2 linked regions of the Homo sapiens genome follow. The protein of the gene in region 2 purifies or fractionates together with the protein of the main gene of each other region. This does not show direct contact. Each region holds a gene or a part of one and is shown on either strand. Other genes may lie near its edges. The genes, in order: FGR and CCR3.

Evidence for each region.
Region 1: the proteins of CCR3 (region 2) and FGR purify together in Homo sapiens (affinity purification with western blotting, with the first as the bait; one study listed by BioGRID). This does not show direct contact.

Annotation. Positions count from the first base shown.
Region 1 is NC_000001.11:27,621,363-27,625,397, reverse strand, and holds part of FGR (tyrosine-protein kinase Fgr), read left to right. Parts: intron 1-246; 5' UTR 247-309; intron 310-1,468; 5' UTR 1,469-1,481; coding exon 1,482-1,707; intron 1,708-2,253; coding exon 2,254-2,356; intron 2,357-3,740; coding exon 3,741-3,839; intron 3,840-4,035. UniProt on the Homo sapiens protein: Non-receptor tyrosine-protein kinase that transmits signals from cell surface receptors devoid of kinase activity and contributes to the regulation of immune responses, including neutrophil, monocyte, macrophage and mast cell functions, cytoskeleton remodeling in response to extracellular stimuli, phagocytosis, cell adhesion and migration.
Region 2 is NC_000003.12:46,241,072-46,245,259, forward strand, and holds the start of CCR3 (C-C chemokine receptor type 3), read left to right. Parts: upstream 1-1,388; 5' UTR 1,389-1,467; intron 1,468-4,188.

The sequences.
Region 1 (4,035 bases), on a different chromosome or scaffold from region 2:
ATTGTGTGACTGTGCTGGTGGGTCAGGTGAGTATGAGTGTGAAAGAGAGCTGGTGTGGGTGGTTTGCCCTATGTGACGGGGGTTGTGTAAGTGTGCCAGGGGTGATAGGAAGGAAAGTGAAGGCAGAAGTCATGCTGGGGCAGAGCCCAGGCCTTCTGGCTTCCTGAAGAGGGCAGGAGCTGGGCAGCTGCTGACAGAAACATTGGCAGAGACTTCATCTTCCTTGTCCTTCTGTCTCACCCTCAGGTCTCTGACCCCTCCCAAGGATCATGCCGCAGCCCCACTGACCCAGGAGTAGGGGCCTAAGGGGTGAGTGGGGTAGACTGAGGGCTTTCAGGGTCAGGAAACAGGGTGGGGGTGGCCTTCCTGAACCCCACAACTCCTCACAGCCTCCTCCTCCTACAAGGACCCTGTTGCTAGGTAACGGATGGGGGAGCCAGAATGAGGCAGCTTGAGAGGCTGAAGGCTGGACCCACGACAGGAAATGGCCTTGATCCCCCTCTGCAGTGACTCTCCAGGTGCAGACACACAGCCTCACACACACTCACACACAAACATGCGCAGATATATAGACATACATGCAGAGATACACACATCCAGAGACAGGCACACTGCTCCCACACAGAGATAGGTGCACATTCATAGACACACAGACACAGAGACACCCACTCACACAGACAGGCACACACATACTCACACAGAAACACATGCACACAAACACGGTCTTACAGACATATACACATGCAGCCAAACACATACACAGAGACTTTTATACACTCTCGTATACACACAAACCTGCACACACAGACAGACATCCACAAAGAGCTGCACACACATGCATACCCACACAGGCAAACTCACCCATACTTAGAGACACACAAAGACGCACATGTACAAGCACACTGAAAGAGTCACAGAAACACAACATATCAAAGCAATAGGACCCAACCTGAGCAATATAGCAAGACCTTGTCTCTACTAAAAATCAAACAAATTAGCCAGGGGTACTGGCACGCACCTGTATAGTCCCAGTTCTTGGGAGGCTGAGACCAGAGGATCACTTGAGCCCAGGAGATCAAGGCTGCAGCAAGCTATGATTGTGCCACTGCACTCCAGCCTGGGCAACAGAGTGAGATCTTGTCTCAAAACAAAACAAAAAAAGCAAAGCAATAGGAGGCAAAAATATGCAAATAAGCATAGCAATATCCCAATGTAGAAAGCCAGCCCCAGAGATATAGACATGAGCCAATGGGAAGAGAAGCACTGAGGGGGGACATACTGTGAGGCAGACTGAACGGTACAGTAGGTGGCCCAGTTCCGCCTTTATCCCTTACAGGGAGGACCCCAATCTAGGCCCAAGAGGGAAAGCCACGTGCCTGTATGAGCGTATGAGCATGTGCATGCGCGTGTGTGCACAGGGTGGTGCACCTGGCAGGGGTCCTTGAGTGAGGCATGCCCCATTCTGTAGCAGGGAACCTGGAATGGGCTGTGTGTTCTGCAAGAAATTGGAGCCGGTGGCCACGGCCAAGGAGGATGCTGGCCTGGAAGGGGACTTCAGAAGCTACGGGGCAGCAGACCACTATGGGCCTGACCCCACTAAGGCCCGGCCTGCATCCTCATTTGCCCACATCCCCAACTACAGCAACTTCTCCTCTCAGGCCATCAACCCTGGCTTCCTTGATAGTGGCACCATCAGGGGTGTGTCAGGTGAGTCCAAGGGGTCGGAGGCAGGAGCTGCCTGGATCCTGGGAGAAACTGAGGGAAGAAGAAGAGATGCGAACTTGCCCTTAGGAGCCTCCAGGAGGATGTGGCAGATACAACCCCGCTTTCAAGATCACATGGGCTGAGGGAGTCTGTACAGCCCTCCCATCAGAAACCACAGTCTGCAGGGGAGGGTCAAGAAGCTCTACTCCCAGTCTGAGAGGGGCAGGATCCTGTGACAGATGCAAGTGACAAAGAGAAACTTCTTGCCCTTTTAGGTGCCACTTCCCAGATGGGAAGTCTTCTTGGTGGGGAAGAGGAGGAGTGGGCAACAAGGGGATCCTCCATGGTGGGAGGAATGGGCTTGAAGTTGTGTGTCCTAAGCTGTGGAGACCAAATCAGAAATTCCTTGGACCCCAAAGGCCTTTGGGAACCAGAGCACTAAAGGAGTGGGGAGGTGCAGCACCTGGCTGGGGAACAGGAATTTGGGGTGCAGCCCCCTTGGTGCTTCTGCCCCATGCCCTACCCTGCTGAGTAGCCCTGACTCTGCAGGGATTGGGGTGACCCTGTTCATTGCCCTGTATGACTATGAGGCTCGAACTGAGGATGACCTCACCTTCACCAAGGGCGAGAAGTTCCACATCCTGAACAATACGTAAGTGACCAGGCCACCTAGTCAGAACATTGCCTGGGCTGGGAGCAGGACACAGACAGGAATCCCACCTGGTCCCTAGCCTCAGAATGCTCCAGCCTAGTTGGGAACACATATACATAACAATAAAAACCCTGGGTGACTGCAACTGTGTGCTGGTTGAGGGGGGTGGTGTTGGGCCACTGCACCCGGCCTGGAGGAGATGATTTTTAAGCTGAGGCTATAAAAATGAAATAGACGGCCGGGTGCAGTGGCTCATGCCTGTAATCCCAGCACTTTGGGAGGCCAAGGCGGGTGGATCACCTGAGGTCAGGAGTTCGAGACCAGCCTGGCCAACATGGTGAAACCCTGTCTCTATTAAAAATACAAAAATTAGCAGGGCATGGTGGCGCATGCCTGTAATCCCAGCTACTTGAGAGGCTGAGGCAGAAGAATCACTTGAACCCGGGAGGCAGAGGTTGCAGTGAGCTGAGATTGCACCACTGCACTCCAGCCTAGGCAACAGAGGGAGACTCCATTTCAAAAAAATAAATAAATAATTAAAAAATAAAAAATAAAAATGAATAGACAGTGAAGGAAGAGGTAAGAAAAGAGGAAGAGAGTGAGAGAGAATGAGAATAAATGATGACTTCTGGAAACCACAAAGTGGTTCACCTTAGGTGGTTCATAAAATATGGGATGCAGAATGGGAGAGAACAGAGGCTAGAGAGGTAGGCAGAGGCAGATTCTGCCAGGCTTTTTTTTTTTTTTTTTTTTGAGTTGGAGTCTCGCTCTGTCTCCCGGGCTGGAGTGCAGTGGTGCAATCTTGGCTCACTGTAACCCCCGCCTCCTGGGTTCCAGTGATCCTGGGACTACAGGCAAGAGCCACCAAGCCTGGCTAATTTTTTGTATTTTCAGTAAAGATAGGGTTTCACCATGTTGGCCAGGATGGTCTCGAACTCCTGACCTCAGGAGATCTGCCTGCCTGGGCCTCCCAAACTGCTGGAATTACAGGCATGAGCCACCACACCTGGTCTCTGTCAGGCTTTTTAAGCCACATTGAGAAGTCTAGATTTTATCCAGAAGGAAATCAGTAGCCATTTTCTGTGGGGAAGTGACCTAGTCAGCTGTCCTCTGAATTCCCAATCCCCAGCCCAACCCAGCTGGGGAGCCCAAGGAAGAAGCTAAGAGCCCTAAGTGCCCCCGAGCTTATTCCTTCTGCAGGGACAAGCCCTCCCAGGGAAGCTGCAGTGGCTGGGGCAGAGCGGACAAAAGCCCCAGTGGTGGGGGGTGTCCAAGATGAGGGTTTGGCAGGATTCATCTCTGCAGACCTGTGTGGCTCCACCTGGCCTCAGGGTGCCTTGGGGGCTGGAGGTGCTGCTGACCATGCCCTGTTCTGTGCCTACAGTGAAGGTGACTGGTGGGAGGCTCGGTCTCTCAGCTCCGGAAAAACTGGCTGCATTCCCAGCAACTACGTGGCCCCTGTTGACTCAATCCAAGCTGAAGAGTAAGTAGGGATTGGGGCAAGACCAGCCCTATGGACAGGACCCTGGAGTCCAGACTCCAAGGCCACCTCTTGGACAAGTCATTGCTCCAGTCCGAGCCTGTCTCCTTATCTAATAATTTTGTAAGGTCATTGTGAGAACAAAAGAAGATTGTACTGATAATAATAATAGTAGATAATAGAGCATGTACTATGTTCT
Region 2 (4,188 bases):
TAAGGTGGAAACTGAGCCCCTTCCTCCCTTTCTTCTCTTTCTCTCAAATTCTCTCCCTATTCTTTCTCTCTCTCTCTAATGCACATGTGTGTGCGCTCTCTCTCTCTCTCTGTCTCTCTTATCCTCCTTCCTCTTTCTTTGTCTTTTGTTCCTATGTTTTCTTTATCATGAAGCATACAGCACAGTCCTACACACATATCAAACGTTTGATAAACACTTTGGTGCATTACACTCATTTGTCGAGTTAGTCAGTGTATCAAAGATCACTTCATGCTTAGTCAGAGTTCTTCCCACAAATATTGGGTGAATACCTGCTCTGTGCCCAGTGCCATGCTAGGTCCCAAGGGACACATCAGCACATACAGCAGGCACATGGCTCTGCCCTGTGACGCTTTGCCCTGAGACATGGCTCTGCCCTATGACGCTTATGTCACAGTGGCATTCTACCCACACTTTACATTTCCTTAGCCCTGTATATTCTGCAGAGACTTTTCACATATTTATCTTAGTTGGTTCCACGGCAATGCTATGACTTAAATATCATTATTTCCAGTTTAGAGATGAAAAAGCTGAGGTCCAGCAAGTTTAAATTACTACCCCCAGCTTATGTAGCTGTGTATGCCACAACTGAAACTCAAACTCAAGTCTTTTAGACTTGTCTAAACCTTTGCAGCCACATTTTGCCCCATCCAAGTGTCTACTGGACCCTGCAGAATAATTAGTTTATTCCTTTGCCGGGAAATTCTTATTTCATTCTTCATCCTGTCTCCCGATGAGTCAAATCAATGCTTATTCAAGAATTATAAATCCCAGGTCTTTAGGAGGCCGAGACTCGCAGATCACTTGAGGTCAGAAGTTTGAGACCAGCCTGGCCAACATGGTGAAACCCTGTCTCTACTAAAAATACAAAAATTAGCCAGGCATGGTGGCATGTGCCTCTAATACCAACTATTCCAGAGGCTGAGGCAGGAAAATCCCTTGAACCCAGGAGGTGGAGGTTGCAGTGAACTGAGATCATGCCACTGTACTCCAGCCTGGGTGACAGAATGAAATCCTGTCTTAAAAAAAAAAAAAAAATTATAACAACCCCCCACCACTAAAAATGAGCAATGCCAATGGGTGGAGAGCCCCTAAAGCAGCACTAATTGCAAGGATTTCTCAGGTGACTGGTTAGTATGTGGTGTCAATCATGAAAAAGAAGAACTGCACGAAAGTATCTTTCTGAAAACTTGCAAAACTGAGAAGCTAGTCTGTTTAAAACAGGAAGTTATATACTTACATTGTTTACTACTTTACTAATGTCTGTGATCTGATGGTATCTCTGTTTCAGGAGTGGTGACGCCTAAGCTATCACTGGACATATCAAGGACTTCACTAAATTAGCAGGTACCACTGGTCTTCTTGTGCTTATCCGGGCAAGAACTTATCGAAATACAATAGAAGTTTTTACTTAGAAGAGATTTTCAGGTAGGTGTCGCTTTTCCAGGAAAAGGGAGGTGGAACAAGGAGGGGTCCAGGCAGGTGGAAGTAGTAACTTCCAGCAGTGCTCTTGGATCTAGGAGGGAGGAGAGGAAGGTACACAGCAATTTAGAGGTAGTATGGGGCCAGAGTGGGAGAAAATATGGCCACATATCTCCATTTTCTTCTTGCTTTTTCTAATTTTCCCTTTCTGTCTCCCATCCACACAATGATAAGTTTGCGTGTAGCACTCACCCAAACTTGGCCCTTTATACCTCTTTAGTCAACATCTGTGCCCATGTTACCCTCCTATACTTTCACAAATTCTCAACTATGTGCATATGACTACTCCAAAGAGCTTACACTTAATAGCTTGTGTTTATTTATATTGACTTGTAAGAAATAGCAAAAATATAATTTTACATATATATGTGTATATATATATATATACACATATATATATATATATATATACGCACACACACATACATTTTTATATATACAAAGTCCTCCCTCAGTATCTGTGAGGGATTTGTTCCAGGACCCTTGCAGATACCAAAATTCATAGATGCTCAAGTTCCTTATATAAAATGATGTAGTATTTGCTGATAACCTACAAATATCCTCCAGTACCCTTTAAATACAAGTACCTAGATTACTTGTAATACCTAATACAACGCATACAGAGCGCTTCATTCATGTGGAGTCAACATAGCACTTGCTGCGTGGCAAATTCAAGGCTTGGTTTTTGCAACTTTGTGGAGCTTTTTCCCAGATATTTTTGATCCGTGATTGGTTGAATACACAAATGTGGAACCCATGGATACAGAGGGCTGATTATATACATATGTGTGTGTGCATTAAGTATGTATGTGTGGAAATATATATATTTATTTGAAGTTTTCATTGAAAATCCACACTAAATCAAGCTACTAGATGAGTCAGTTGATTGATTTGGTGTCTTTTTTTCTGGGTGAATGAGATTGTCTGTGTTAGAGGGTAGAGCTAGAAAGCCTTACCGATTCTTCTGGAAACGCCTGGATTGACAGAGGATGAGTGTTAACTTTGACAAGTACTTCAAGTGAGAGTGGTGGGAATAAGGGGTCTTCCACATGGATGTGGTATAAGTTGAAGTATATTTTTGAAGTGCAGCTCTTTCCAGAAAATGGTGATGATTACACTGAACCACGCAGGATGAGTTAGCTCTTCTGGGAGAAGAAATATGAGCCCTTTGTATGACTTAATAAGAAAAAAGCAGATCTGTACAGCAGAATAAATTGGGTAAAGGGCACAAAGAGATAAATCACAGGAAGGGAAATATGAATGACTAATACTTGTAGTTAAAAAAAATCAGTAATGAAATAAATGTTAATTACAACAATAATGGCAACCCTTTTGCCCATCTAATTGGCCAAGTAATTTTTTCTTTCTTTTAGATCTTCTCCATATTGATGGATGCTTGCTGAAATGGGCACCATCACCTACTAGTGCCAAGAGTATATATATTGTTACACACTTTCTGGAAGCAATTTGACAAAATGCATCAAGAGACTTCGAAATATAATTCAATGTAGAAATTGTGATTTGTGTAATATACCTTAAGGAAATAATTTTAAAATGCACACAAATATGTTTATTGCAGTATTATTTATAGCAGAGCAAATTGTGAATAACTTAATCACACAACAAAAAGGCAATGGTTAAATAAGCATGATTATCTATACAATATGTTGGAGTCATTACAAATTACATTTTTAAGTAATTTTTAGCCACAAGGAACTAGGTGAAAGGTAAAGAAGTTAAGGTATCAGAATACAAAATGATATACAAGTGTACTATCTTTCATGCGCGTCCGTGTGAAGAGACCACCAAACAGGCTTTGTGTGAGCAATAAAGCTTTTTAATCACCTGGGTGCAGGCAGGCTGAGTCCGAAAAGAGTCAGCGAAGGGAGATAAGGGTGGGGCCGTTTTATAGGATTTGGGTAGATAAAGGAAAATTACAGTCAAAGGGGACTTGTTCTCTGGCGGGCAGGAGTGGGGGTCACAAGGTGCTCAGTGGGGGAGCTTTTTGAGCCAGGATGAGCCAGGAAAAGGGACTTTCACAAGGTAATGTCATCACTTAAGGCAAGGACCAGCCATTTTCACTTCTTTTGTGGTGGAATGTCATCAGTTAAGGCGGGGCAGGGCATTTTCACTTCTTTTGTGATTCTTCAGTTACTTCAGGCCATCTGGGCATATATGTGCAAGTCACAGGGGATGTGATGGCTTGGCTTGGGCTCAGAGGCCTGACACTGTCAATTATAACATACATGGTACCTGGAAAGGCAGTGGCTCTCTCTCCATAGCACAGTTGGAGGTGGAAGCACTGGGTCCCAGAAAGCTGAAATTCTGGTCATGGTGACTATCCCACAACCATGTTATTTGGAATGTATATGCATACTTTCCTTGTGAAAACATATTCTTCATGACCAACTCCTTCAATAATCCAAAATCATTTGGCTGGTGGGCGAAACCCTGTCACTTAAGATGAACTGACCGCACTCAGACACAATTCTGAAAGACACAAGCATGAGGTGTAACTTTTGCATTAGTAACTATTATTAATGATTGGAAGCTCTGGAAATCCATGTGCTGCCCTAAAATACCAATTCTGGGAAATGTTTGTGGCTGGAAAGAAGACTGCATTCATTCATGATTTGAACTTTGAGAGGCTCTTCTTGTGTATTTCCA